4 linked regions of the Homo sapiens genome follow. The protein of the gene in region 2 interacts with the protein of the main gene of each other region in a biochemical or structural test. Each region holds a gene or a part of one and is shown on either strand. Other genes may lie near its edges.

What was found.
Region 1: the proteins of LIMK1 (region 2) and RASSF6 interact in a test that uses a peptide from one of them, tested with the Homo sapiens proteins (one large-scale study listed by IntAct).
Region 3: of the proteins of LIMK1 (region 2) and MBP, one has a biochemical effect on the other in vitro, tested with the Homo sapiens proteins (one study listed by BioGRID).
Region 4: the proteins of LIMK1 (region 2) and ARRB1 form a complex in vitro, tested with the Homo sapiens proteins (one study listed by BioGRID).

What each region holds. Positions count from the first base shown.
Region 1 is NC_000004.12:73,612,150-73,619,658, reverse strand, and holds part of RASSF6 (ras association domain-containing protein 6), read left to right. Parts: intron 1-3,722; coding exon of another isoform or gene 3,723-3,768; intron 3,769-6,415; exon of another isoform or gene 6,416-6,529; intron 6,530-7,509.
Region 2 is NC_000007.14:74,116,062-74,123,570, reverse strand, and holds the end of LIMK1 (LIM domain kinase 1), read right to left. Parts: intron 2,989-7,509; coding exon 2,933-2,988; intron 2,680-2,932; coding exon 2,522-2,679; intron 2,433-2,521; coding exon 2,270-2,432; 3' UTR 1,046-2,269; downstream 1-1,045. UniProt on the Homo sapiens protein: Serine/threonine-protein kinase that plays an essential role in the regulation of actin filament dynamics. Acts downstream of several Rho family GTPase signal transduction pathways.
Region 3 is NC_000018.10:77,124,910-77,132,418, forward strand, and holds part of MBP (Golli-MBP), read right to left. Parts: exon of another isoform or gene 3,451-7,509; intron 2,740-3,450; exon of another isoform or gene 1-2,739. UniProt on the Homo sapiens protein: The classic group of MBP isoforms (isoform 4-isoform 14) are with PLP the most abundant protein components of the myelin membrane in the CNS. They have a role in both its formation and stabilization.
Region 4 is NC_000011.10:75,270,041-75,277,549, reverse strand, and holds part of ARRB1 (beta-arrestin-1), read left to right. Parts: intron 1-101; coding exon 102-186; intron 187-638; coding exon 639-711; intron 712-3,338; coding exon 3,339-3,476; intron 3,477-4,571; coding exon 4,572-4,655; intron 4,656-5,825; coding exon 5,826-5,849; intron 5,850-7,509. UniProt on the Homo sapiens protein: Functions in regulating agonist-mediated G-protein coupled receptor (GPCR) signaling by mediating both receptor desensitization and resensitization processes.

The sequences.
Region 1 (7,509 bases), on a different chromosome or scaffold from region 2:
TAGTTTGCCCCCTCTCAAGTTTCTTAACCTAAGCCCCAAACGTTTGTCTGTAAAACAAGCATCATCAAAGGATCTGCCACATAAGGCTTTCTTTGATGGGAACTGAACAGTCAGCAAGTGTTCTGTAAGTGATACCTACTGTTAGCATTAAGAATAAGCTGCTCTGCCAAAGGGGCCGTTATCAGGGAGGGCAAGCTGAACTAGGGAGACCAGACAGTGTGTATTAGGATGCTGGAATTGAACTGGTTCCCGGAGACTGGATCCAGGACAGGCAAGCAGGTGACAGGTGTGCTAGGATCATCTCTCTGGGTAGCAACGAAATGACCTGGCTTCTTTCCATTTTTCAGATAGAGTATGTGGTGGCAAATTCAGACATATTTGCTACTCAATCAGTTTTCTTTTGAAAAATTCACATTTACATTAATCTGTTATTCCTAAAAAGAAAATAGAATTTTAGAGTAAGAGAGTTACACACAATCTCATATTGTGGAATTCATGCCATTTGGGTTTTATAAAGGAGACTGCTTTTGAATAACTTTCATCAATTTAGACCATATAATCCATGTCTTTATATTTCAGCACATATTGAATTGTTTGTATTGAAGTGCTGTTTTTAATTTGTGTTGATGGACAAGAGACATGAAGGAATAATACTTGTATTTTGTCAGTCTCTACCTCTTAAGCTTAAATTACAGGAAAGTGGCTTTATTTTATGAAGTTTCACTTAAAGGGCACTTTTGTCAATGTTGTTAGTTATTAATGTTGCTAATTTTCTTGAGGGGACCAACTTAGTGTCTATGACTAGTAATTTCCATTGACTTCATTTTTATCTTGTTATTTTATTAAATAAAGCAGTCAAAGAGTTTGCAGTATACTCTAACTTAATATCATTGGTGTTTTAATGGATTCTTTTTTCAAATTGCAGAGTTGAAATTCTTCAGTGTGCTTACAATTAGATATTGACTGGAGAATTGTGGATAGAATTCTAAACCCAACCTAACTGAAGTTTACTATGTTATTTCCCTCTGGGGTCTGATTGTGTTTAGTACAGTTTAGCTAAAAACTTATAAAGGAATCAAATTGAATTAGAATAAGTTAGGGTTCCAATATTCATTAAAGATTTTTCAAAGAGGAAATATGCTTTTATGCTGAATTTCCATATTGTTATACATCCTTAAACAAAGTTATTTGCCTTTATATTTATTGATAGACATATGTCTAAATAAAGAATAGTAGCCCCAATTGAGATAAATTTATTTAACCATATTTGAAATTGATTTGAGATTAATCTACTTAACCGTAACTGGGTGGAAGTCTTTCTAGTTAAAATCTGTTTAGATAGATAGATAGATAGATAACAACTTTATATCTATACATTAGAATATTGTGTTGAATTTACATTTATTCTACTATTTCTCACGTGTATAACATTTTATTATAAACTATTAAATGTTGTGGTCAATCAGAGAGAGAGAGAAAGAGAGAAAAGAGTGACACAGAGAGACCCAGCAATGATTACGAAAAAATTAACTTTTCCAGTTATATTCAAAATAGTGTAACATGTATGTAACAAGTCTTTTAAGCATGTAATTAAAAGTTCTATACCTGATTCTTGTTTTAATTTCCTAAAATAAGAAGGATCCTTTACTTTTAACTGAGATAGAAACCCAATGCTGACAGTCCATTTGCTTATATAGATTCATTGATTGCAATGTAGGTGGGGAATTCACGGTTACTAGAGTTACATGGGCTTCATATAAAAGCTTAGATTTTTAAAATATTCAAGTATAGGCCATTTGAAAACAAAACCTCTGAGAAAGGAATTCTGAATATTTTCCTTTCACATTACAGTTAGAGAGTTATTCTGTTGCAAAAATTAATTTGTATGTTTAAAATGATAAATTATAGTGATTTCATCACTTTCATAACATAATCTCAACAACCAAACTTAACTAATACCACTGCTTTCAGGAGTAGAACATGAAGTGTCTCCTATTTAAGTAATAAGGATGTTAACTTAAAGGAAAACTTCATCATCACCTAGAGCCTAGTAAAGGAGCTTAAGAGGAGAGAGTGTCGATTCTTTTGCAGCAAATATACAAACAGGAAAAATGAGTCGTGATCTTTGTGACGTCAGCCTAAGAATTTCTACTGGGAAGCTCAGGTGAAGCAGAAAATTTTTGAGTTCCACCACACCAGTAATTCCAGAAGATGCTGTCGGCAGACTGAGCAGCGCCTCCCAGACCCAGTGGTGGCAAGATGCCTTAAGTGCCTTAATACAAATTTGCTTCTCTGACCGTTTCTGCTTTCTTTATCTCCCTGAGGGCACCTTGAGCAGAATAAAATGCATGGCATTAGTACCATGTAAATATGCAATAGAACAGTAAAGTTTTGGCATTTCCAATTAGATTCCACTTGAACTGAGGGCAGTGGCATGCTCACATAGAAGTGTGTTTGATTCATATTCTGCTTAGTCCTCTCTTAGATTCAATGATTATAATACATTATTTCTATCTCAAAACCAACAATCACTGACTGCAACCAATATTACTTAATTAAGTGATAGTTTGTATATATGCCAACTCTTGACCTTTACTGTCTCTGCAAATAAAGCACATTTTAAGAAAAAGTATGGAGCCAAATGTTTCCCAGAAACCATCACTCTGTTAACTCTTTTCCTTTTTTGAGAGAACTAGATACTGGATGGAATTATAGATGCTTTGTCTCATTTTCTTGAAGTGATGTAATTGCATATAACTCTGCTCTTCTCTACTCCAAGGTTCCAGGTCATAACTTTGAGAAAACAGTTTCGTTTTGGAGATGAATACATAATTGTAACTTTCTATTGCTTCTTCAAGCTGAAACAATATTTTATTAAAAAGACTCTCCGTGTGTACAGCCCTTAACATACTCTTATCTCATAATTGAAATACACACTTGCTATTCTAGTGTGATACTTTCTGTTCTTTTTTTAAGTAGCTTTTACTGGGGACGTGGGTGAGAGAGATGTAACATATATTCCTTGTCTATGATTTAGACAGTACATACAAAATAAAAAAAGAAATAATTATCACACATAATCTCTTAGCTCTTAATTTTACCATTAATATTATAATATACCTCTCTGTATGTTGGATGTATTCAATATTTTGTGTATGTTTTATCTATATGCCTGCATATATTCACTCACTTTAGAAGACACAAAAATGAAATAGCAATAATTCTGTCCTAAAGGACCTAGTAATCAAATTAAGTAAAATAAAATATGGTTAGAGAGAGAAAGCAGTAAGTAATTAGAAAGCTACAGAAAATTTCCTGTGAAATTTCAGAAGCAAGAGAAATTGTCTTTGGCTGGGAAATACAGGGAAGTTAGCACCTGTATATATATGTATAGATAGATAGATAGATAGATAGATAGATAGATAGATAGATAGATATAGATATATGTATATATATTAGTTCTTTGTAAAATCATTAGCATTATGACACTTTGTGCACCTTGTGGCCTCAGAAATAAGAGGCTATAGATATAGATACAGGCTATACTTTCTGTGCCTAGCACGGTAGCAGGTGCAGAGAAGGAACTCGTGAAATATTTGTTGAATTTACAAACGAGTGAACCCAATTTTCCACTTTTAGATATGTAACCATTTAATTAACTCATGGTTGGATAACAGGAAGTTACTTTAAATGACTGACCCATTTGATTTAATTTGTACTAGAATTCACTTCCTGTCCTCTGGCCTCATTCTGGTCACAAGGCAACTGGTAAGTCCAGGCAAGCCCACCTCTAGGCAGGAATGCAGAGCAGGGGGAGGTGAACCACGTTCCAGCATTGCTGGAACGCTAATGCTGCCCAACACTGCCTCCTCAGGCTCCATCCAGATCTCATTGGCTTGTTCAGACCAATTCTACCTCTCCTATACTTCTAGTGCTGTTGATTTCTCCAGGACTTAATTGCTGACCTATCTAATTCCCTGTTTCTCCAGCTTCATTGTTTCTGGACAAAATGAAAAAGTAAATAACCAAACTTATTAAATAATGATCTTATTTTACACACAATCTAAGTCAATAATCTCTGGCCCCAGGGCCTACATAGATTTGTAACAACCATCTTCCTCCTCAAGTTGTAGTTTATTATGTTCTACCAAAATTACTGAACATCCCAAGTAAGACCTCCAGGCTTCTAGAACTGTAATTTTTTCTTTCTTCATAAATTCTCTCCCTCGTTGCTATTCATGACTTCTCTGTTATTCTCCTCTTAAGTCCTTGAGAAAATTTGCTCAGATGCTTATATCTACCAAGTCTTTATAATTTAGGAGATTTTCACAAGGGCCCTAGCAGGTTTTAGTTTGCTATGAATCATGGTGAATGGGAATGGGAAGATGAGGATGAAAAACTATTTGAATTCATAGATCTATGCCTCACTTCATTGTTTTTGTTTGTTTATTTGTTTTGCTCTTTTTTTTTTTTTTTTTTTGAGACAGAGTCACACTCTATCACCCAGGCTGGAGTGCAGGGACACAATCTTGGCTCACTGCAACCTCCATCTCCCAGGTTTAAGTGATTCTCGGGCCTCAGCCTCCCAGGTAGCTGGGATTAAAAGTGTGTTCCACCACACCCGGCTAACTTTTGTATTTCACTTCACTGTTAATACTAACAATGGGACTTTTACCAAAGCATGTTCTTACCTTTCAGGTATTTAAACTGTTTGAATATTTTATTTACCCAATTTTTAGATCAGACATGAATAATATTATTTCCTACTCAAATATTATGTGCTGCCTATGAATGAAAATTTTATCCTGTTTTTATTTTCTTACATTAAATTATATTCAACTTTCTTCCTTCCTAAAGTCAGAAAATAATATAAGAGCCTTGGAAACCCTTTCATCACATCTTCTGAAGTCTTCTGAAGCTGGCTATGAGTTACCTCAGCATAGATCAACAGTGTGTCACTATAACTACATTGCAATTATTTGCCCTCTTTAATGATATCTTTGATATTTCTTATGAATGCAAATAAAGAGTGAGCCAGTTGGAAAGCTACTGCAATGATTTTTCAGTCCATCACTGCCAATTTTCACTTTGTAATTATAAGAAGCTGCTATCAGTGGTTCTTCAGTTCCAAATATCCCCAGTGTCTGGTGAGGGAAGCAAGCTGTCTGGTTCTTAGATGGTCTTTTTGCTATGCTCTGACATGGTGGAAGGGTCCAGGCAGCTTCTGGGGTCTCTTTTATAAGGGCACTAACCACATTCATGAAGTCTCCACCATCATGAACTAATCACCTCCTAAAGTCCTCACCTGTTAATACTATTGCATTGGGGGTTAAGTTTCAACATCTAGGTTTTGTGGGGACACAAACATTCAGACCACAACAGAGGGAGGCCCTCTAGTAGGCTGACGCAATAATCCAGGAAAAAGATGATGGTGGCTTGGCTTAGGGTAGTAGCAGTGGAAATCAAAGCTTTCGAATTTGGAATATGTTAGTGGTACAGTGAATAGGACTTACTTTTGGATTGAATTTGGCTTATGATGAAAGAGGGAAAAAATGAGACTAAATATTAGTTTTGATGCCTAGATGGGAAAGAATTGTGGAGGAGGAAATTTTAGAGCATGGGAGAAAGTCAGTGGTTCTTTTTCAGCCATGTAGATATCGAGATGCCTGGTACACATCTAAGTAGAGATTAGGTAGGTGGTGACATGCGTCTGGAGCTCAACAGAGATTATGGGATGGAGACAGATTCGATTACCTGGAAGAATGTATAGATAGAGAAGAAAGGATGGCTGAGAATGGACACTCAAACAAGCCAGTATTTAGTGATCATACAAAGGAGGAATCAGCAAAGGAGACTAGTGTTGAGGCCTGTGAGATAGCAGGAAAATAGAGTGAGGTGATTGTTATTCATGGTTTGTCTCAAAAGCATCAAGAAGAAAGTGTTTTAAAAGGTAGGAAAATCAATCTTGTCAAATGTTGCTAAGAGGCCGAGAAATGAGGAGAGAAGTGAACTCTTTGGCAAGGTATAGGCTCTTGGAACATGGATGGAGAGGTGGAGGTAGGGCTAAATTAAAGGAATATATGATAAATAATCTGGACCCAGGAGGAAGAAGGAAGTGTTTGGACCCCAGGGTCATCACTGGGGGATTTCAGTCGGGGACATTAATAACCCTTTTGGTGGGTTATTAGAATGACAAAATCCAGGGGCAAAACTCAAGTTTGAGAAGCTGGAGGAACCTGTGTAACCTGTATAACCAAGTTGCCCAGACCAAATCCTGTGAATAAGTAACTGGGATTCACTGGGCTCATGGAGCATGTTGTGTCTGTGTGCCCAAGGCAGCATAAAATGCCCATGTGGCTTCTGACGTATAGAATTACTTTGCCTGGTGACTAAGCTTCTGTGTCTCTGGTATGAGTCCTCCAGGTGTCCTGCATGAGACCTGCCAATGATGTGCTATCAGAGGATGCCATTTCCAACTAGAGAAGCACAATTCTTTGAGCAAGAAGATAGCAATAGAAAAGAAAGTAAGGTATAAATCAATAATGACAATACAAGGTAGAAAGCAGAATGATGACAACAGTGTGGATTCAAAGGACATGGGGAGACTTTAAGATTTCCCACTGGGGACTAAAAGGGACCAGATATCTGGACCTGCAGTGAGGAGGGCCCTCTGCTGCCAGGGGAAATGGGTGAGAAAAGACTCAATGACATGAAATTTCATTAGATTACAAGGCCTGGTGTTGAAGAAATGTTTCAATTTGGAGCCTGGAAAGGTAGGTTTGAGTGGAATTGAAGAAAACTTGAGAGTCAGGTTAAGGGACTTGGGCTGTATTTATTAAGAAAGATACCAAGATGGTTTGTGACCAAATAGGTGATGGGATGATCGGAATGATAAAAGCCTAAAATGAGACTCCAGCCAAGCATTCACCCTGAAAACTGTAACAAAGTACCTAGTGAGTTTAACAACATGCTATAAAGAAAAATATGCATCAGAGATTTTATGAGAATAGAAGAATAGCTTTCCTGTTTTCTTTTTTTCCTGGTACTCTGAAGAGTTAGGACATATAATTTCCTAATTTTTATTCATCTTACCCAACCCAAATAACCAGATTTGAAAGGAAAAGGAGGAAATCCACCCCCTTATACACAACGTTTTTTTTTTTAAAAAAAAAAAAAAAAGAAAACTGAACTCTCTCATCCATCTTTTTTATTCTGGCTCTATCCCCTAAAATCTTATAGACTTGGAGCCATGATAACTGAATATTCAATTTTTGCAAAATGGAATGAACAGAAAATATTATACTTTACATCTCTGGTCACACCCTAATGCCATTTATATGAACATATAAAGGAGGAGATTATTCACATCTGACCACAGTTTCCAGAGCTTGAAGGAGACTTGAAAAATATTACATCATACCTAATCAACTCTTCAAGTCAGAGCTTGATTTTAGCTGCCTAGAATTGCAGTTGTCTTCTGCTGATTGGGGCAAGGTTCAGCCAGTTTGG
Region 2 (7,509 bases):
AACTGGGCTGTGTTCTCTTCCCCCCTCCATCCCTGCCTTTTTTTTTTTTTTTTTTTTTTTGAGACAGAGTCTTGTTTTGTTGCCCAGGCTGGAGTGCAGTGGTGCAAACATGGCTCACTGCAGCCTTGATCTCTTGGGCTCAAAGGATCCTCCCACCTCAGCCTCCTGAGTAGCTGGGACTATAGGTGCATGCCACCATGCCCAACTAATTTTTTTTTTTTTTTTTGAGATGGAGTTTCGCTCTTGTTGCCCAGGCTGGGGTGCAATGGTGCAATCTCGGCTCACTGCAACCTCTGCCTCCTGGGTTCAAGCAATTCTCCTGCCTCAACCCCCCAAGTAGCTGGGATTTCAGGCATGTGCCATCACACCTGGCTAATTTTGTATTGTTAGTAGAGATGGGGTTTCACTATGTCAGTCAGGCTGTTCTCAAACTCCTGACCTCAGGAGATCCTCCTGCCTCGGCCTCCCAGAGGGCTGGGATTACAGGTGTGAGCCACTGTGCCTGGCCTGCCAATTTTTTTTTTTTTTTTTTTTGGAGACAAAGTCTCGCTCTTTCCCAGGCTGGAGTGGAATGGCACCACCTCGGCTCACTGCAACCTCTGCCTTTCGGGTTCAAGCGATTCTCCTGCCTCAGTCTCCCAAGTAGCTAGGACTACAGGCATGTGCCACCACGCCCGGCTAATTTTTGTATTTTTAGTAGAGACGAGTTTTCACCATGTTGGCCAGACTGGTCTTGAACTCCTAACTTCAGGTGATCCACCCGCCTCTGCCTCCCAAAGTGCTGGGATTACAGGCATGAGCCACCACACCTGGCCTCTGCCCAACTAATTAAAAAAAAATTTTTGTAGAGACAGGATCTCACTATGTTGTCCAGACTGGTCTTGAACTCCTGGGCTTAAGGGATCGTCCTGTCTCAGCCTCCCAGAGTGCTGGGATCACAGGCATGAGCCACCACACTCATCCTTGTCTTCTGGTCAGGGAAGACTAACTCCTCTTACCTTGACTATTTCCCCAGGGCCCCAGACACACATCGCCACGCAGGACCTGGGTGGGGAGTACGGAATTTATTTTATTGTTCTGCGTCTGGGTTTGGTTCCTTGGACGTCACGGTTCCTGGATGGGGGTGGGTGGGTCCCACCTCCCTAAGTCATGGTCCCACGGGCCTGTTGGGATTGTTTTCCAGGTTCAAAGTGCACTGAGAAAGCTTCACAGTTTTAATACTTCCTAGATGCTCAACTGAGGCAAAGTGACAAAATGGCCCTCCCACCCCCGCCCGCCACAAAAATAAAATCCCAAGCCCCTGGCAGCTGCTGCTGCAGCCGTATGAAAAAATAATACAAACTCTTCTTAAAAAATAGATTACACAGAAAAAACGCAGAGGACAGAGGGGCATGAGGAGGGGCAGGGAGCCTTGGGGGAGAGGCCCGGGAAGGGGCTCTGAGATGACTGCAGGGGCTGAGCTGCTGGTGGACACCTGCCCGGTCCACTGTGCCTATCCTCTCACTGCCGGAGCCGGCTCCTCCCCATCGCCGGCCAGGGCACCGCAGCTCCACGCTCCCTCAAGGGACCCCCTTCACCCTGAGGCTTGGTACCTGCTTCTCACTAAAGTGGCTTTAAGAAAGAAACAAAAAAAAGACCCAAAGCGAGAGAAGGGGCTGTTTGCTCAGCCACTGGGGACCTCCGCCCCATGGGATCAGCCCTCTCTCTGCTTTGGGGGTTTGGAGAGTCCTCGATACCTGTTGCTACCTAGACACCCCCTGGGGGGAAAACGGGCCCCAGACTCCCCATTTGGTTCCTGGGAACACAGACACCTGGAACTTGGCCTCTGCCCTGATGTGCGCCCTCCCACGCACCCAAGCGTTATATGGGGCATGGTTCGGAGGCTGCCTCCTGGCCCAGCCTCCAGGGAGCTATGGACCAGACAGGTGGAGCGTGAACAGGGTTGCTGGGGCAGCGGCGTGTGGAAAGGGGCGTAACTCACACAGGCCCTCCAGCTCATGCAAGGAGAAGCAAGAGGGGACAGCCCTGCCAAGACAGAGGTTACAGCAGGGCGAGAGCATGGTGTGTGTGTGCAGCTGGGCCGGCTCTGGGCCACGGCAGAGAGAAGGCAGGGGAAGCGGTCCACGGGGTGGGAGAAGGCAAGTCAGGGCCTGGCTCTGAGGAGAAGCCTGGGTCCCCACTGTCCCAGCTGAGGGCCACCTCCCGCGGAGGAATCTGGTGGGGGTGGATTCTCCAGAGGTGGGGACAGGGGCAGCTGAGTGGCCCTGGCTCAGTCGGGGACCTCAGGGTGGGCAGGCAGTCCGCTCTCGCCGCGCCGGTAGGTCTCCCAGAAACCTCTGTCCAGCTGCTCCAGCTGTGGGCCCAGTGGCAGGTGGCCGGCCAGGTGCATGCGGAGGGTCTCCAGCCAGTGTTCCAGCTTCACAAAGGATGGCCTGGGTGACAGGTGGGTGGGGAACGGTGGGTCTGGCTGTCCCGGGAATCGGCCCCACCGTCTCCCAGGCCAGGGCCCCACCCCACTCACCTCTTCTCGGGGTCCAGATCGCAACAGCGCACGGTGATGGGGAAGAAGCTCGGGGGGCAGTTTGGGGGGCAGTAGCGGTCCAGGAATCCTCGCACGTTGAGGCCAAAGTCCATGGTGCGGGGCAGGTAGTCAGGGTCTGCGTTCACCCGCCCGATGATCTGTCCAGTACAAGGCCCGGCAGTTACTCCAGGGGGCCCTCAGCCTGGGCATCTGGGTGCCATCCAGGTGGTTTGAGGGCAGGTGGCACTGGGCCTGGCTGCAGCCTGACTGCAGTACCCCATGGGGGCCAGCCCATGCCTTGCTGTGGGCAGGCTTCCTGGCATGAGGCCCCTGCAGATGCTGAGCCTGCAGCCTGGGTGAGTGGGGAGGAGCCCAGGCCTCAACACCGCTGCTACCCAACCCTGGACCTACCTCGCACAGGACGATCCCAAAGGAGAACACATCCACCTTCTCATCATAGCTGCGGCCTGGATAAAGAGACCGACTGTCAGCAGATGAACACATGGGGGTGCCAGGGATGCCAAAAGGCAGGGGACCAGGCCAGCTGGGAGGATGCCCCGGCCGGGAGGTCCAGGCCCAGGAGGCAGATGCCGGCAACCTCTATGGGAACCCAGGCTTAGGCTCTTTCCCCCAACCCCACCAGGTCTGAGCAAGCCTTTGGGAGCTCTGAGGAGCAAGGGGCAGAGCCCTGGACAAGGAGTTCGAGGCACCGATCAGCTGCGTGACTTTGCACAAGTCATGAACTCTGTGCTGGTCCCAAAAGGGAACCATGTCAGGTCTCTGGAATCTGTGAATGTTACTGGGTCAGAAAAAGGGTCTTTTGCAGATGGGATTAAGTTAAGGATCTGGAGATGAGATGATGCTGGATGATCTGGGTGGGCCCCAAATGCCACTGCAAATGCCCTCTTGAGAGAGACACAGAGAAGACACAGCAGAAGAGGAGGAGGTGGCCCTGTGAAGACAGGGGTGGAGACTGGAGTGATGCGGCCACAAGCCCAGGAATGCAAAACAACCAGAAGGTGGAAGAGGCAAGGAATGCATTCTCCCCTAGATCGCCCTGGAGGGAGCGCAGCCCTGTTGGATTTCAACCTTCTGGCTTCCAAAACTAAGAGGGAATAAATTTCTGCTGTTTATTTTATCTTGAGATGGAGTCTTGCTTTGTTGTCCAGGCAAGAGTGCAGTGGTACGATTGTGGCTCACTGCAACCTCTGCCTCCTGGGTTCAAGCGATTCTCCTGCCTCAATTTCCCGAGTAGCTGGGATTACAGGCGCCTGCCACCATGCCCAGCTAATTTTTGTACTTTTAGTAGAGATGGTGTTTCACCATGTTGGCCAGGCTGGTCTCGAACTCCTGACCTCCAGTGATCTGCCCGCCTCGGCCTCCCAAAGTGCTGGGATTACAGGTGTGAGCCACTGTGCCTGACCATTTTCTGCTGTTTTAAATAATCAAGTTTCTAACAATTTATTACAGCAACCTCAGGAAACTGACACAGACTCTCTGAGCCTCAGTTTCCTTATTGTAAAATGGGAATGATACCAGCTACTTAATGATGTTAAAAATAATCGGTACATGGCCGGGCACAGTGGTTCACACCTGTAATCCCAGCACTTTGGGAGGCCGAGGCGGGTGGATCACCTGAGGTCAGGAGTTCAAGATCAGCCTGGCCAACATGGTGAAACCCCATCTCTACTAAAAATAGAAAAATTAGCCAGGCATGGTGGCAGGTGCCTGTAATCCCAGCTACTAGGGAAACTGAGGCAGGAGAATCACTTGAACCCAGGAGGTGGAGGTTGCAGTGAGCCGAGATCACGCCACTGTACTCCAGCCTGGGTGACAATGCAAGACTCCATCTCAAAAACAAAAAACTGGCCGGGCACGGTGGCTCACACCTGTAATCCCAGCACTTTGGGAGGCTGAGGCGGGTGGATCACGAGGTCAGGAGATCGAGATCATGGTGAAACCCCGTCTCTACTAAAAATACAAAAAATTAGCCAGGCGTGGTGGCGGGCGCCTGTAGTCCCAGCTACGTGGGAGGCTGAGGCAGGAGAATGGTGTGAACCCGGGAGGCGGAGCTTGCAGTGAGCCGAGATCGCACCATGCATTCTAGCCTGGATGACAGAGCAAGACTCGGTCTCAGAAAAAACAAAAAACAAAAAACAAAAAACAAAATACCCGAAACAATTAGTACTAAATGTCAATTCTCATTTACTGAATGCCAACTAGGTGGAAATGAGTTTACAACCTTTAATCCTCACACTAATCCCTAAACATAGGAAACACTAAGACTTTTTTGTTTTTTGAGACAGAGTCTTGCTCTGTCGCCCACTGCAACCTCTGCCTCCTGGGTTCAAGCAACTCTCCTGCCTCTGCCTCCTGGGTTCAAGCAACTCTCCTGCCTCAGCCTCCTGAGTAGCTGGGATTACGGGCGCCCGAAACCATGTCCAGCTAATTTTTGTATTTTTAGTAGAGATGGGGTTTCACTGTGTTGGCCAGGCTGGTCTCAAACTCCTGACCTCATGATCCACCTGCCTCGGCCTCCCAAAGTGCTGGGATTACAAGCGTGAACCACTGCGCCCGGCCACTAAGACTGTTTTATAGTCTTCTTTGCGGGCTATGTTAACTCTGTGTGTGTGTGTGTGTGTGTGTGTGTGTGTGTGTGTGTGTGTGTGTGTTTGACACAGAGTCCCACTCTGTCGTCAGGCTGGAGTACAGTGGTGCGATCTCGGCTCACTGCAAGCTCCGCCTCCTGGGTTCACATCATTCTCCTGCCTCAGCCTCCCGGGTAGCTGGGACTACAGACGCGTGCAACCACGCCCAGCTAATTTTTTTGTATTTTTAGTAGAGATGGGGTTTCATCATGTTGACCAGGATGGTCTCAATCTCTTGACCTCGTGATCCGCCCACCTCAGCCTCCCAAAGTGCTGGGATTACAGGAAGGTTTTTTTTTTTTTCTTTTTGAGACACAGTCTTCCTCTGTTGCCCAGGCTGGAGTGCAGTGGTGCAATCTTGGCCCAATGTAACCTCTGCTCCTGGGTTCAAGTGATTCTCCTGCCTCAGCCTCCCTAGTAGCTGTGCCACCACACCCGGGTAATTTTTGTATTTTCAGTAGAGACAGCGTTTCACCATGTTGGCCAGGCTGGTCTCGAACTCCTGGCCTCAAGCAATCCGCCTGCTTCAGCCTCCCAAAGTGCTGGAATTACAGGTGTGAGCCACTGTGCCTGGCCTATTTTTTGTTTTCTTGAGACAGGGTCTCACTCCGTTGCCCAGGCTAGAAGGCAGTGGTATGATCATAGCTCACTGCAGCCTTGATCTCCTTGGCTCAAGTAAATCTCCCGCTTTGGCTTCCTGAGTAGCTGGGACCACAGGCATTAGGCACCACGCCACATGCCAGGCTAATTTAACTAGGTTAACTATGATGAGGTGATGGCTGGGGTCTGCCTGCCCTGAACCTGTGTTCATGTGTCACCTGCTTGTAGAAGGACTTTATAACCTATAATCTGGGCATATATAGGACCATTGACAGCAAAGAAATGGACTGAGGGAAGCAGACCCTGTGGGAGGCAGAACTATGATCCCCAAAGATGACTGCGTCCTGATCCCTGGGACTTGTATACGTCCCACCTTCCATCGGACTCTGCAGATGGGATTAAGTTGAGGGTCTTGAGATGGAGGGCTGCTTTTGGATTATCCAGGTGGGCCCAATGTCACCGTAAGGGTCCCTATCAGAAGGATGGAGGGCCATGGTGGCTCATGCCTGGAATCCCAGCACTTTGAAAGGTCAAGGCAGGAGGATCGCCTGAAGCCAGGAGTTTGAGACCAGCCTGGGCAACATAGTGATACCCCCGTCTCTATTAAAAATTTAAAAAATTGGCCAGGCGCGGTGGCTCACGCCTGTAATCCCAGCACTTTGGGAGGCCGAGACGGGCGGATCACGAGGTCAGGAGATCGACACCATCTTGGCTAACACGGTGAAACCCCGTTTCTACTAAAAATACAAAAAATTAGCCAGGCGTGTTGGCGGGCGCCTGTAGTCCCAGCTACTCGGGAGGCTGAGGCAGGAGAATGGCGTGAACCCAGGAGGCGGAGCTTGCAGTGAGCTGAGATCACGCCACTGCACTCTAGCCTGGGAGACACAGCGAGACTCTGTCTCAAAAAAAAATAAAAAATAAAAAATAAAAAAATTAGCTGGGTGTGGTGTTGCATGCCTGTGGTCCCAGCTATTCAGGAGGCTGGGGTGGGATGACAGTTTGAGCCCAGAAGGTTGAGGCTGCAGTGAGCTATGGTGGCACCACTGCACTCCAGCCTGAGTAACAGAGCGAGACCCTCTTTAAAAAAGAAAAAAAAAAGGAGGAAGGTTAGAGCCAGGGAAAGAGATGCGGGGATGGATGCAGAGATCAGAGAAGAGAAGATGCTTTGCAGCCAGCCCTGAAGACAGAGGAGGGGGCAGCAACAGGAGGAATGAGGAAGCCTCCACGAGCCAGAAAAGGTCAGGAAACAGGTGCCCCGGAGCCTGCAGAAGGAGCTCACCCTACCGGCGTCTTGATTTCAGCCCGGTGAGGCTGACGCTGGACTTCAGACTCCAGAACTGTATGATCATTTATTTAAGCCACTAAGTGTCTTCTATTTATTTATTTTTTGAGATGGAGTTTCGCTCGTCACCCAGGCTGGAGTGCAATGGCGCGATCTCGGCTCACTGCAACCTCTGCCTCCCAGGTTCAAGCGATTCTCCTGCCTCAGCTTCCCTAGTAGCTGGGATTACAGTACTACAGTACTGGGATTACACCCACCACCATGCCCAGCTAATTTTTGTATTTTTAGTAAAGAATGGGGGTTTCACCATGTTGGCTAGGCTGGTCTCCAACTACTGACCTCAGGTGATCCACTCACCTCAGCCTCCCAAAGTGCTGGGATTACAGGCGTGAGCCACCGTGCCTGGCTGCCACTAAGTGTGTTATAGGAGCAACAGGACCCACAGGGTAACTGAAGAG
Region 3 (7,509 bases), on a different chromosome or scaffold from region 2:
TTCTCATGGTTCTTCCTCAAGTCATGGGCTCAAGAGTGAGGTTGCAAACACCTAGTTAATCCCCAGGCCTGTGCTGAATCCAGCCCACTCCTCTGAGGTCCCGGCTCCTGCCCGTTTCTGCACGCTTCTCTTTTTAGATCAATTTCTTTATCCTTCCTTTCTGCACTTATATTACTTGAACAAATGACAACGAAGAGGAGGGAGACTGTCTCTCCTGCCCTTTCTTCTTCCTCTCCTTCGCCTTCCTTGTCATTGTCATGCTCTTACCAAATTTCAGTAATTTCACCTCCACACCTGCTTTCAGATTCCTTTGTGGGGCCTTCTAATCTTCCTCTCTAACACTTCATTATCGCTGGTGTCATTTCCCCCCAAACTTTACATTGGTTTATTTATTGCTAATATAAATTACTAATTAGTTCGAACATATTAAAAAGCACAGATAATAATCTACAAGACAACTGGCTTATCCTTTTCATCAAAAAAAGTAACACATTCTGTTATTTGTATAAAATCTCAAAATATTTTTAAGAAATAAAACCATGCAGAGACAGCCAATTCCCTCCCCTCCCCGAGATTAGAAGATAACATTACCTGGCTTCTATATGTCATATAATCCCACGTAATCATGACCACATGTTCTTTTGTGGATTTGAAAATTTTAAAGAAATAGAATAATACTATATATATTCATTTGCAGTTTGCTGGTTTCCATTCAACACTGTTATTTAGAATTTTGTCCATGTTGATACACAAAGTCTGGGTAGTTTAACTGTTGTAAGTAAATCATAGCGTAAATCTATAGCCCTACTCATGGGGAATTAGTGTGTTTCCCTCCTTTTTTTTTGTATCAAAACTTTTACTCGATAAAATATGTACACCTAGTTCAGTAGTGCTGAGAGGGAATTCATACCCTGAAATACTTATATTAGAAAGCAGGAAAAGTCTCAAATCAATAATCTAAGATCTAATTCAAGAAACCAAAAAAAAAAGAGCTAAATATATACAAACAAAGTAGAAGGAAGGAAATACCCAAGAAAGAAATCCCCAGGCCCACATGGTTTCACCGGAAATTTCTACTAAAACAGTTAAGGAGAAATTTATGGCAATTTTATACAATCTCTTCCAAAAGTTAGAACAAGTGGGAACACTTTCTAACTCATTTTATGAGGCCAGTTATCCTGATACTGAAACTAGCAAAGACTATACAAAAAATGAGAACTATAGATCAATATCTCACAAACACTTAGAGGCAAAAGTCCTCAACAAAATATTAGTAAAGTGAATCTAGCAACACATAAAAAAGTTATATACATGGCTAAGTGGAATATATATCAGATACTCAAGGGTGGGTCAGCATTAGAGAGTCAGTCAATCAACTATCCATCATACCATGAAGTCAAAGAAGAAAAATCTCATGAACATATAAATTGTCCCAGAAAAGACATTTGACAAAATACAACACACATTCATGAATAGACATGGACTATTGACTTGATAAAGAACATCCATAAAAATCCTATAGCTACATCATAATTGGTGGTAAAAACTCAGTGCTTTGCCCTTTAGGTCAGAATAAGGCAAGTTCTTGCAACTCTTATTGAATATAGCACTGGACATTCTAACCAGTACGGTAAGATAAGAAAAAGAAATAAAAAGTATATAAATTGGAAAGAAGAAATAAAACTATCCAATTTGCAGATAACATGATGATCTACATAGACAATCCCAAGAAATCTACCAAAAAAAATCCTCCTAGATCTAATAAGGCAGCTCAGTAGGTTGCAGAATGTGGACTGACACATAAAAATTACTCACAGTTCTACCTACTCCACAATAAACGTGGAAACTGAAGTTAAGACACAATGCCATTTAGAAATGCCCCAAAGAAAATAAAACACTTATGTACACTGTAAAGAAATTTCAGATTCAGAATCTGTGCACTGAAATTTATAAAACATTGATGAAAGAAGTTAAAGAAGACCTAATTACCCATAGAGAGACAACCTGTGATCATGGATTGGAAAACTCAACACAGTAGAACTATTAATTCTCCCTAATCTATACATTTGAAGAAATTCCTATCAAAATCCCAGCAAGGTTTTTGCACCCATAAACGCGCTATTCTAAAATTCATATGGAAAGGCCCAGAACCTACAATAGCTAACATAAGTTTTATAAAGAATAATAAAGTGGAAGGAAGTCACTCCACCTGATTAAAGTTGACTATGCAACTACAGTAATCAAGACAGTGTGCTCTTGGCAGAGAGACTGACATATAGACTAATGGAACAGAATAGAGAACCCAGAAATAGACCCACAGCAATAAGTGGAAACGGTTTTTAGCAAAGGTGCAAAAGCAATTTAATGGAAGAAGGATCACCTTTTCAACTAATAGTCCCGGAGCTATTGGACATTCGTTGGCAAAACCCAAACCAAACCAAAACAAATAAGCCTCAACCTAAACCTCACACCTCATACAAAAATTAACTCAAAATGGAAAATAGGCTTAAGTATAAAATGTGAAACTATAAAATTTGTAGGGAAAAAAGGAGAAAATCTTCGGGAACCTCAGGCTAGGTGAAGACTTAGACTTCACACCAAAAATCAAAATCCAAAAAAGGTAAAATTAATAAACTTGAATTCAACAAAATGTAAAACTTTCTGCAAAGGACTCTGTGAAGAGGGTGAAAAAACAAGATAAAGTGGTAGAAAATAATCACCGAGTGGTAAGGCCAGCATCTAGAAAATATAAAGAATTAGGAAAACTCAGTTGTTAAAACCAAACAATCCAATTAAAAAGTAGGCAAAAGACATGAACAGACTTTTCACTGAGGAGGATACACAGATGGCCATAAGTACATAAAAAGGTCTTGATGTCATTAGCCATCAGGACAATGCAAATTAAACCATCAGGAGATATCACTACACACTTATTAGAAGAGCTAAAATAATAAAAAAAAAAAATAGTGGCAATACCAAATGCTGCCCAGGCTGGGAAGGTCCTGAATCACTCACACACCGCCGGTGGGAATGCAAAATGGTGTAGCCATTCTGGAAAAGAGTTAGCAGTTTCTCATAAAATTAGACATGTGCTAACCATATGACTCAGCAATTGCACTCCTGGGCATTTATCCCAGAGAAATGAAAACTATGTTCACACAAAAACCTGTACAAGAATGTTCACAGCAGCTCTATTTGCAATAACCAAAACCTGGAAATAATCCAAGTGCCCTTCCTGGGTGAACGGTTGAACACACCTTGGTTCATCCAGATGACGGAACACCACTAAGTAATTAAAAAGAAACACCTATGGACATGCTTGCCAACCCGGATGGGTCTCAAGGGAATTGCGTTTAGCGGAAAAAGCCAGTCTCGAAAGGTTGCATAGTGTATGATTCCATTTATAGAGCATTCTTAAAGCGACAAAATTATAGAAAATAGGAACCATACTGTGGTTGCCAGCCTCAGGGAGGGGGAAGGAGGAAGTCAGCTTGGCTATAAAGAGTAGCATCAAGGATCCTGTGATGAAACTCTCCTGTCCTCTGATGTGTTGGTGGTCACATGGTTCTACATGGGTGATAAAATTACAGAGAACTAAGCGCACGTGCATACCACACACACACACACACACACACACACACAGAGCAGTCTATAAAATGAGTACATGTAAACTGGTGGAATCTGAAATCTGAACAAAGTTAATGGGTTGTATCAATGCTCATTTTCTAGTTGTGGCATTGTACTATGGTTTTGTAAGATGTTATTGTTGGGAGAAACTGGTGAAGGGAATTGCATGTGAATCTACATGATCTCAAAACAGGGTTTTACTACATTGCTTCAGTGAATATCCACTGTGTGTGTCTTATGCACACAGACCAGGTTTTCCCTAGAGGAGATACCTAGAAGTGGAATTGTTAGATCTTAGGATACACCCACCTTCACTTTTTCTAGATTATTCTCTAACATCTTTGTTCCTATTTACATTCTAGTCGAACTCATGTGAGGTCTAAGTTTTCTACACCTTCTCTAATATTTGGTATAGTCACAATTTAAATTTTTTTCCAGTACCGTAAAGGTAAAAAAAAATCTTTTTGCCATCTTAGTTTTGAATTCCCTGATTCCCAGAGGGTTAAAGTCCTTTTCTTATTTTATCAGTCCATCTGGGTTTTCTCATTAGTCTCATATTTTACTCTTGAGTGGCTTGTTTCAAATTACCACATTTTAGAACTGTTTCTGTATTCTAGATCCTGGCCTCACATAGGTCTGTTTCTCCTCATCTTTTAGATATCCACCTATTTTTCACAATGGTGACTCAGACCAACGCAGTGCTATTCACAGAGTCCAGAACAAAAGAACATTCGGAATGACATTTTTACGCTTTAATGGCTATTGAGTGTGAGACATTACTAATAGCTTTGGAACATGCACTCGTGGTTGTTGCTGGCATGTGGGAGATGTTGCTGTGGAAGGCAGCTTCAGTCGGCCGGGGAGATCAGCTGCCTTCTGGCTGGCCTGTCCTACAGACGTCCCACAAACCTGGCCAGCCCACCTCTGCATAAGCCATTCCTTGCCATGAGTCTCTAATGTGTATCTCCACCTGCTTCTGTTTCTCTGGATGAAGCCTGTCCACTACAGGTTTTGACAGAGATTTAAAATCTCCTGTAGAGACTATTCCAGCTACTCGCCTGGCATTTCTGCTCAGCTGGCATTAGGGCCTGTGGCATGAGCACTCTTCCCTTAAACAGCTCCAGAGCTTCCTTCACGGGTTCCAATGGGCCAACAGAAGTGTCTTACTACTTAATGGCCACTTATTTAAAATTATCCCAAGAGTAATTAGAGGCCAGGCGCGGTGGCTCATGCCTGTAATCCCAGCACTTTGGGAGGCCGAGGTGGGTGGATCACTTGAGGTCAGGAGTTTGAGACCAGCCTGGCCAACATGGTGAGGCCCCATCTTTACTAAAAAACAAAAACAAACAAAAAAACGCAAAAATCAGCCAGGTGTGGTGGTGCGCCCCTATAGTCCCAGCTACTGGGGAGGCTGAGGCAGGAGACTGTTTTGGATCCAGAAGGTGGAGGTTGCAGTGAGCCGAGATTGCACCACTGCACTCCAGCCTGGGTGACAGAGCAAGACTCTGTCAAAAAAAAAAAAAAGAAAAAGAAAAGGAGTAATTAGAATATTTTCTTTTCTTTTTTATTGACAACTAAGAAAGCTAAGGAGAAGATGATGAACAAAGACGGATGACAGTAGCCTTATGGTGAAATCATTCTTGAAAGGAAACCTGTGTGGGACATCTCTGGGTACACTCACTCATCATTGGGGTGGAATTTTAAAAGGAGGAACGAGGAGCACCTTTGCAAGGCATCCTTCTCACCACGGCGGTGCAGAGCAGCAGTCAGGCGCTGGTGCAGACTCCCCGGATGGAATCCCGCCTCTTCTTGTGTGCCCTTAGAGTAACTTAACCTCTCTGGGCCTTGTTTCCTCAACAGTAAAAAATGAAGATATGAATAGGATGGTGACATCCAGTGAGGGCATCCTAGGGCCGTCCCGACTGTTATCCGAGGTGACAAACCGCTCTCAAAAGAGAGTCTGGCAACGTGCAAGCAGTCGATAAACACTCCCAGGCGACAGAAAAGGCACAGAGGCAGCTGCTCATCTTAAGCATGTCATATTTTTAAAGAACTTGGAGGAGGATTAAAAGTCAAACAAAATAACTTACAATTAACATTTACAAATTCAGGCAGAAATAGAAACATCACAAGAAAGTTTGGTCTCTTGTTTTTTTTTTTTCTTTTTTCCCCAGCGTTTCGTGGCTACCTTTAATCAGCGCACACAGCTAGGACCACCACTGACCAAACTCAAACCCGACGTTTTAAATCATGGAGGAGCCATGAGCTACCAGGTGTAAAACAAGCGACGTGTCTTACACTTTCTTATCTTTGGGCAGAACTGTGATACTTCTGGAGGATTTTCAAAGAGGATTTGAACAAAATAGCTTTGTTTAACCCGGAGTTAGTAGAAGTGGTTGTTTCAGAACAGTTAACTCCCTGGGAGTTACTCCAGCATTTACAGCAATTTTTAACTGTGTTCTTTTCCCTCAGATTTCTGTTTTTCCCACAAAAAAAAAAAAAAAACAAAACCTCAAAAAACAAAACACACACACGCGCGCACGCACGCGCACACACACACACACACACACACACACACACACACCCCCTCTGCCGCGGTACCCTTCCCCTGGCCTTCCTCCACTGAAGGGCGGCTGGGTTCCAGGCTCTCAGCCGTGACCACAGCCCCGGCCCCAACCGCTAAGGAGGTGCTCATCACTGGAGGTGGCCGCCAGGGAGCTCAGTGCGGGACCTGCTCAATCCATACGGTCCCCTGACTTGAGGGTGACCGTCCTTAAACTGTCCCCCGGAGCTTCGCCAGATAAAATGTCCAAAACACACACTGGAGTTCCCTGACGTTTCCTTCCTCTGAAAAACTCTCTTTCCAGGCGGGGCGTTCTGTGGTCAGACGAGGCAGAGGCCTCCCCGGAACGAAGTCCACGCCCCCTCCCCACCCCAGCACCCAGCGAGCCCACGCGCCCCTCACCCACGCGCAGAGAAACCGAGCACTTGTTGATTCTCACGTTGTTGCAATTGGAAAACGGAACAAGGAACCAGAGCTCGCCTGTTTCCAGCCAGAGTCGCACGGGGGTCCCCAAAGACGCTTGAACCTTTTCCCAAGCCCCACTCCACCTTCCAAAACGGGGGGGCTCAGGTGGACGCGAAAGGACACAAGGCGCTGCCCCCAGCACCCCGGAAAATCTAGTGTGGCGGCAAATGACCGCAGGTCACACACCCCGGCCTCGGGGGCCACGGAAAACGGACGCACCCGGCCCAGGACAGGCAGTGGGGCCCAGGAGGGGACTGCCGGGAAGACCCGGGCGGGCCGGCGGGCGGCTGCGGGCGGCGCACGTGGGCCCAGGTGGGCGCAGCGACGGGCCCGGCCGAAGAGCCCGAGACAGGCCCTGCGAAGGCGGAAGCCCGGACCCGGGCTCTCCTGGCCGCCCCTGGAGCTCAGAGGGAGACTGCGCTTCGCCCCGGGGGCAGGGGCAGGAGCGCGATCGCGCGCGGGGCCCCCGGGGTGTGATTAGCAGGCGCCGCGAGCCGGGAGGACCCCCCAGCCCGCCCTGGCAGCCAGCACCCTCTCCACACCCGCCCAGAGTGGCCGCTTTTGACCGCCGTCCCCTCCCACCCTAGACTCCTCCCCTCAGCCCCACGGCCCGAGGCCGAGCGGTTTCAGCGACCCTGGGACCGCCGGGCCTGGCTGGAGTCCACCCCTGGACACCTGTCAGGGTCGGGCCCCGGCGCTGTAAACCCGCGTCTACACCCGCGCCCAGCCCCCGCGCAATGGGGATCGGGGGCGGCGACTTGGGTTCGGGTCAGGGAGGCCGCCGGCTGCTACCTGCTCGGCCACCTGCTCCGCTGCCTAGGTTCTCCCTGCGCGTCCCCAGCCAAGAAAGGGAC
Region 4 (7,509 bases), on a different chromosome or scaffold from region 2:
CTGGGGAACCCCAGAAGATCGCGTGGGGGCTTTTCTCCCTCCCCTTTCCCTAGAACCTTGCTGTCCTCCCAGCCAACCCCGTCCCTTCTTATGCCCCCCAGATCTATTACCATGGAGAACCCATCAGCGTCAACGTCCACGTCACCAACAACACCAACAAGACGGTGAAGAAGATCAAGATCTCAGGTATCCCAGACAGAGGGTCAGCTTAGGGGACAGCGAGAGGCAATCTTCCCAAGGGCTGGGGGTGGCTGAAGTATCTCCCCTTGTTAACAGCCTTGTATAAAAAATAGCCACTGAAGCCCAGGGCCTGCTCTGAGCCACAGGGCAAAGCTTTTGAGTTGGGTAAGGCAGGCTGCTTATTGGCTAGGTAATGAGTTTGCTCTTTAAGCCACCTCTTCAGTTTCTTGGGTTCTGGACAAAGCTGTCCTTGAGGGGAAGGCTTTGGTTATGGAAGGAAATGGGTGTGTTTGGGGCTACCCTTTGGATGTAAGACAGGGGTGGTCTTATGCAGAAGTCCCCACTGGTGGCCTCTGGCCATTGCCTGGGGCTGAATATCCCCAACCCGGGGACGCCTGTGAGACTCCATGGGAGCTACATTCCCGACTCACTCCACCTTGATTCCTCTCCCTCCCTAGTGCGCCAGTATGCAGACATCTGCCTTTTCAACACAGCTCAGTACAAGTGCCCTGTTGCCATGGAAGAGGCTGAGTAAGTGGGCACAAGTCTGGCCTTGGGCGTATGGGATTGGGTGGGAAAAAGAGAAGCTCTAGGTGTCCTGTTACAGGTCCAGGTGGCTCTTCTCCACCTGGCAGAGGGCTGGGCCTCAGACTTCCTTGCCACTCAGAGTAGATGATCCCGAAGAGCCTTTTAGAAACCATCCACCTGATTTAGCTTCAAGAAAATGCATGCTACAGTCAAGGAAGAGACCCACTAAAACTAGAGTGACAAAACAATAGCTAATGAATGTAAGGGGATTGGGGTTGTGAGAAGAAATAATTACGTTGTACAAGAAACCTAGGTTGAAGGGAAATACTTTGTTCTTGGCTTCCTGGTAGCCAGGGCAAAGTGGGTAAGGCACTAGGTACACAGCTCTTGTCTGATAAAGGGGTAATCCAACTCATTGGGAAAAAGGGGTTGTGTGTGGGAGTGCAGAGAATAATTACACACAAAAAAATCATCTAGGTTTGAGGAGAACTGCTATGGTTGAGCATGGATCGAACTTTGTCCCAGGCTTGTTGGCAGCTAAGGCAAGTGGAGAGATCTGAAGTGAAACATCTTTACTTACCTAAAGGAAGTAAATGCTCCCATTCAAAGACATACACATTTTTTTTTCCTGGCCCTGCAAGTAATTTCTTGGGGCAATTATACCTGATATAATTTTACATGTATATGTGTATTTGTTTATGTATAATTCCAATCAGTATTTCTTGCAACTGAAAATATTTTTAAAATGTTACTACATGGCCTTTGAAATAGTTTTTAATGTCCTATAGGTGAACATGCTATGATTAGATCAAGCTTTCTCTGGTTACTGGATATTTTTCATATCCACTGTTGATTTTTTCAAAAAAATCAGAGCTATGAGGCATAGATTCCTGATGGTAAAGTGAAGTGATCTAGAACCAGAGTAACATATAATCCCTAAAGAGTAGAAAATCCCAACCACTGCAGATGGTGCCAGCGTCTGCATAACGAATACCAGCAGGGATGGCTGGGGAGGCATTTGCACTCACAGACTTGTTTACTTCTCAGGAAGCGCTGTGGGGCTGGGGTTGCTGCTGCCCCAGTATGTAGAGGAGGAAGTGGCTCAGAGAGATGTGACTTGCAAGTTAGCAAGCAGCAAAGCTGGGGCTGGAACACGGTCGTCCGACTCCAAGGCTTGTTCACTATCTGCTGCATGACAGCTCTCTCATTGGAAAGGATGGGGGATAGAGCAAAAGCAAGTAAAAATTGGACAATCAAAACACCCTATATATGATGGATGTGATCAAGCAAGTAAAGTTTTAATTGTTGAGCCTAGATGGTGGGTATATGGGTGCCCAAATAGCTTCATTTATGGTTTATGTGTAGCTATAATTTTTTCTTTTTAAAATGTGTTTAGAGACAGGGCTGGTGCTCACGCCTATAATCCCAGCACTTGGGGAGGCTGAGGCAGGCAGATCACTTGAGGTCAGGAGTTTGAGACCATCCTGGCCAACATGGCAAAACCTCATCTCTACTAAAAATACAAAAATTAGTCGGGCATGGTGGCGCGCCCCTGTGATCCCAGCTACTTGGGAGGCTGAGGTAGGAGAACTGCTTCAACCTGGGAGGTGGAGGTTCCAGTGAGCCAGGATCGCACTACTGTACTCTAGCCTGGGCGACAGAGCAAGACTCTGTCTCAAAAAAATAAAATAAAATAAAATAAAATAAAATAAAATAAATTTAAATTAAATTTGTTTAGAGACAGAGTTTCACTCTGTTGCCCAGGCTGGAGTGCAGTGGTATGATCATGGCTCACTACAGCCAGCCTCGAACTCCTGGGCTCAAGTGATCCTCCTGCCTCAGCCTCCCAAGTAGCTAGGACTACAGGTGTGCACCACCATATCAGGCTAATGTTTAAAATTTTTTGTAGCGATGGGGTCTTGCTATGTTGCCCAGGCTGGTCTCAAACTCCTAGCCTCAAGCAATCCTCCTGTCAGCCTCTCAAGTTGCTGGGATTACAGGCATGAGCAACTGTGCCTGCTGTGGCTGTACTTTTTTTTTTTTTTTTTTTGAGATGGAGTCTTGCTCTGTCACCCAGGCTGGAGTGCAGTGGAGCAATCTCGGCTCACTGTAAGCTCCACCTCCCAGGTTCATGCCATTCTCCTGGCTCAGCCTCCTGAGTAGCTGGAACTACAGGCGTCCACCACCATGCCCGGCTAATTTTTTTGTATTTTTAGTAGAGACGGGGTTTCACCTTGTTAGCCAGGATGGTCTCCAACTCCTGACCTCGTGATCTACCCGCCTCGGCCTCCCAAAATGCTGGGATTACAGGCGTGAGCCACTGCACCCGGCTGGCTGTAATTCTTTAAATAAATGTGCTTTTTAGCACTGTGCTGCTTGACTAGGATAATCTTTTAGAATATCCGAGATTCAGTCCTGTTTGTGCGTAGAATGTAGATGTGCCTCTTTTGAGTGGCAGTGGTCTCCTTGCCCGAGCTGGGCTGGCCCAAGTGGTCCGTGTGTCTGGGGGACAGAGGTTGGGAGAGGGAGACTTGGAGCAGGCTCAGACTAGATATTCTGCTGGGCTGGAGATCAGGGCTGGGGTTGGCTCTGGGGAGGGCCATCTCCACAGCTGCTTCCTTTCTTCCCAGTGACACTGTGGCACCCAGCTCGACGTTCTGCAAGGTCTACACACTGACCCCCTTCCTAGCCAATAACCGAGAGAAGCGGGGCCTCGCCTTGGACGGGAAGCTCAAGCACGAAGACACGAACTTGGCCTCTAGCACCCTGTGAGGACCTGCCCTCCTAGCCCTGGGCTCCTAGTGCATCTTGCCTGATGGGGCCACACCCTCCTTGGTCCCCCCAGTTCAAAGACAAGGCTCAGGCTACCCTCTCCATAGCCTTGTCAGGGCCTGTCCTCAGGTGCTTGACTTGTCAGGGAAGCTGCCTCCTTACTCCCAACCCTACCCAGGGGTGACTGAGAGAATAAGATGGACCACTAGGCCAGCTCACTCAGGCAGTGCTGGGCTCTGCTACCATGCCTGGGGGAGGGCAACCTGGGAAGGCTTCCTGCAAGAGGTGGCAGCTTCTGACGTAATGCCTTCAGTCAGATGGGGTGTCCCTGAGGAGAGACCAGGGTGGTGAGCTGGGTTAGACCCAACATGGGGTGCCCCTCCAAGTCAGGGGTCCCAGGGCATCTGGTCACTCCTGCTGCACAGTCATCGTGGACGCCTCTAGGCTACTCTGCTCCAGCAGAGCCCTGGCTATGGGGATGCCATCTTGCCCTCTTGCCAGTGTGGTCCTTCAGTGGGGCTTTGGCCTACGTCTAGAGCAGCCGCCACTCCCAGCACAGACTCAGCTCTCTTCAGCAGCCCCTGCACAGCCTCCCACTTACCTGAAGCTTTTTGCCCTGTCTCCACCCTGGCTCACACCCTACCCATCTTCAAGACCCAGCTGAAGCACCACCTCTGCGGAGAAGTCCTTCTCTGATGGCCCCCACCCCACCCCACCCCAGCTGCCTCGCCCTCTGTGAACTCCCCGTGTGGCCCTTTCTGCCCATGGGTTGCTGAGAGAAGCAGAATCCATCTGAGGGGAGGAGGAGCCTGGCCCTCATGGCGGGGACGCTGGCCTGGGCAGGGAGAGGGGCTCAGCAGGGCCACACAGTGAGCGAGTCTCACAGTCAGACTTGGAACCGGGGCTCTGGGTCCCTGCTACCTAAGGGCACTGCTCGCCTTCCTCATCTCCACTGGGCTCTATTGGACATGGTAGCTGAGTGGCTAGCCAGATGGGGGATGGACGGCCACTGCCCCCCAGCATACCCACCCCTGAGGTGTCTCGCCCACCTGGCAAGGCCCCTGAACTGGCTCCCCTGTGTCACTTTGCAGGTTGAGGGAAGGTGCCAACCGTGAGATCCTGGGGATCATTGTTTCCTACAAAGTGAAAGTGAAGCTGGTGGTGTCTCGGGGCGGGTGAGTGCTCCAGCCAAGCCCAAGACCCCGGAGTGCAGAGGGGAGCGTCCCAGGTGCCCACAGGCCCCTGCCCCATTCTGCCTGTTTGCAGCCCTTTTAGCTGCATCCACCTTGGAGGAGGAACCTCCTGTCCCTTCTTTTCCTCCCTTCTGTTCCTCTTTCTCCCCCGCCCGCTTTCCCTCTCTTCCTTCCTTGGCCCTCAGCCCCTCTCTTACCCCCACCCATCTCTTTCTCTCTCTCCTCCTCCTCTATCCTAGGTCTGGGCTCGCACTGAGGATTGGCCATGCCCAGGGGACGGCGTCCTCAGAGTCTTTGCTGTGGGGTCCCCAGGGGTGCCATCTCCTTATCACACTTTGGGCATAGCACCCACCCCCATGCATGCCCAAGCTGATTTTCTGAGGAAACAGCTAAAAGGGCTCAGAACCCAGAGCTGGATTGGGGATTTGCTAGTCAGCTTTCCCATTTTACAGATGGTGAAACAGAGGCCCAGACAGTGCCCCAAACATTGCCTGAAATCTCCTCTCCTAACTCAGGTCATAGTGGTGGACCAGACTGCCCTGCCCTGGAGCATAGTTTGGTGGAAGCTCAGGGAGAAAAACAAACAAACAAACTACTGTGTTTCTTTTTTGTAACTTAATTCATAAATTTCTATGAAAAGATTGAAAAGCTAAATCCCATTAGACATTGGGTCTCCTTGATTATTAGAAGAATGCCTCTTGGCAGGTGGCAGTATGTAATCCTGACCTTATATAATAGGACATCTCAAAATTACAAATCCCAAATCCTGTGTCTGGTGACCTTTCAGGACCCACAGTCCCTCAAACATTCTTGGCAACCCCGGAGTCCTTCCCTCTGCCTTTAGATAGTCCGGCCTCCCTTGGGACAGGCAGCACTGGGGTTAATTTTTACACTGCCTTGACAGATGAGGATCCTGGGGCTCAGGGGTTTGCTGAGCTGGGTCTGGATCCCAGTCCCTCGGGGCAGGGCTAATGCCATTTCGGTGTATCCCTGAAAGAGCAGTCAGGGCTGTGCAGGGGGGTGGGTGGGAGTGTGTCCCGTGGGTCTTCTCTATCCGGGGGACAGCAGAAGTGGTGAATGAATGTGCTTTTTGTTTTCTTCCTCTCTGAACTCTCTCCTGACCACTTCTCCTGCCTCCTCTGACCCACCCAGCCTGTTGGGAGATCTTGCATCCAGGTAAATTCCTCCCTTCCACCTGGTTCACCCACCTTCCTGGAGGGCCTGGAGCCCATTGGCTTGACTGACCAGAATCACAGGGCACTGGGTTGGAAGGAATCTTAGTGGTCATTTCAGATAGCCAGGTTCAGGTGTGAGCTGGGAGACACAATTTCTCCTTAACAAACCTCACCTTGCTCTTCCATCCCACCTGAGTGACAGGGATCTTTACAGAGAGCAAAGCCTGATTACACTGATACAGGGAGTGGCCCCCAAGAGAGCTGTCTGAATTACTGATCACCTGAATTATAGGAGCTTTTGGAGAAATGCAGACTTCATGGCTTTCAAACTTCTACACTAGTGAGGAGGGAACTGCTGGCCAAGTGTTGCTAAGGAGAGGTCCTCAGGAGATCCTATTTTGTAAACAAGGTCTCCTTGCAGCCAGCTGGATGCACTTATATTCCAAAAATGCATGTACCCCAAACACAGCAGTTTGGCCTCCTTCTGTCACAAGATGGCAGTGTGGCTCATCCTAAGAAATCTTAAACTAATTTGACAGGTGAAATTCATTCAATTCAATTCAGTTCCATATCATTCAGCAAAGATTTCCTCAACCCAGGCTTGCGTCCAGGCTGGTGCTGAGTGCCAGAGTCCCAGAGAGGAATCAGATGTGGTCCCTGACCTTATCGTTCCTGGCCCGGTAGAAGGTTAAGATCCAGATTCTTCCACTAAAATGTTGGCAAACCCAGTCTTCCACCAGCTCCATTCTGAAGCAATCCCCAAAGCAAAAGGAAAAAAAAAAGAGAAGGAAAAAAAGGCCAAATAGCTCTGACAGCCTTATAAAACCCCCAGGTTCCCAATGAGGGGACTTAAGTAACGATTCTGGCAGGCACAAGCTTCACATTTTTATTTTTATTTTTTATTCTGAGACAAGGTCTGATTCTATTGCCCAGACTGGAGTGCAGTGGCACAAACTTGGTTCACTGTAACCTTCTCTGCCTCCTGGGTGGAAGCCATCCTCCCAACTCAGCCTCCTGAGTAGCTGGGACTACAGGTGTGCTCTACTATGCCCAGCTAATTTTTTTTTTTTTTTTTGAGACAGAATCTCACTCTGTCGGGTAGGCTGGAGTGCAGTGGCACGATCTTGGCTCACTGCAACCTCTGCCTCCCAGGTTCAAGCAGTTCTCTGCCTCAGCCTCCCAAGTAGCTGGGATTATAGGCACCCGCCACCACACCCGGCTAATTTTTGTATTTTTAGTAGAGGCAGGATTTCACTATCTTGGCCAGGCTGGTCTTAAACTCCTGACCTCATGATCCACCCGCCTCGGCCTCCCAAAGTGCTGGGATTACAGGCGTGAGCCACCGCGCCCAGCCTAATTTTTGTATTTTTAGTAGAGATGGGTGGTGGTGGCAGTGTCTCACCAGGTTGCCCAGGCTGGTCTCGAACTCCTGAGCTCAAGGGATCTGCCCGCCTTGGCCTCCCAAAGTGCTAGGATCACAGGCGTGAGCCACTGCGCCTGGTCAAGCTTCACAGTTTAACTCAGCTCTTTAGCTGCCTCATCTCCCAGAAGTTCCCGTGGTTCTAGAAGACAGGCTTTGTTCCAAGTTGAGCTCAGTGAGACTCAAAGCTAGAAAGTGCTGCACCAGCGGGTGGCGAGGCTGGTGGAACAGACCTTTCTAA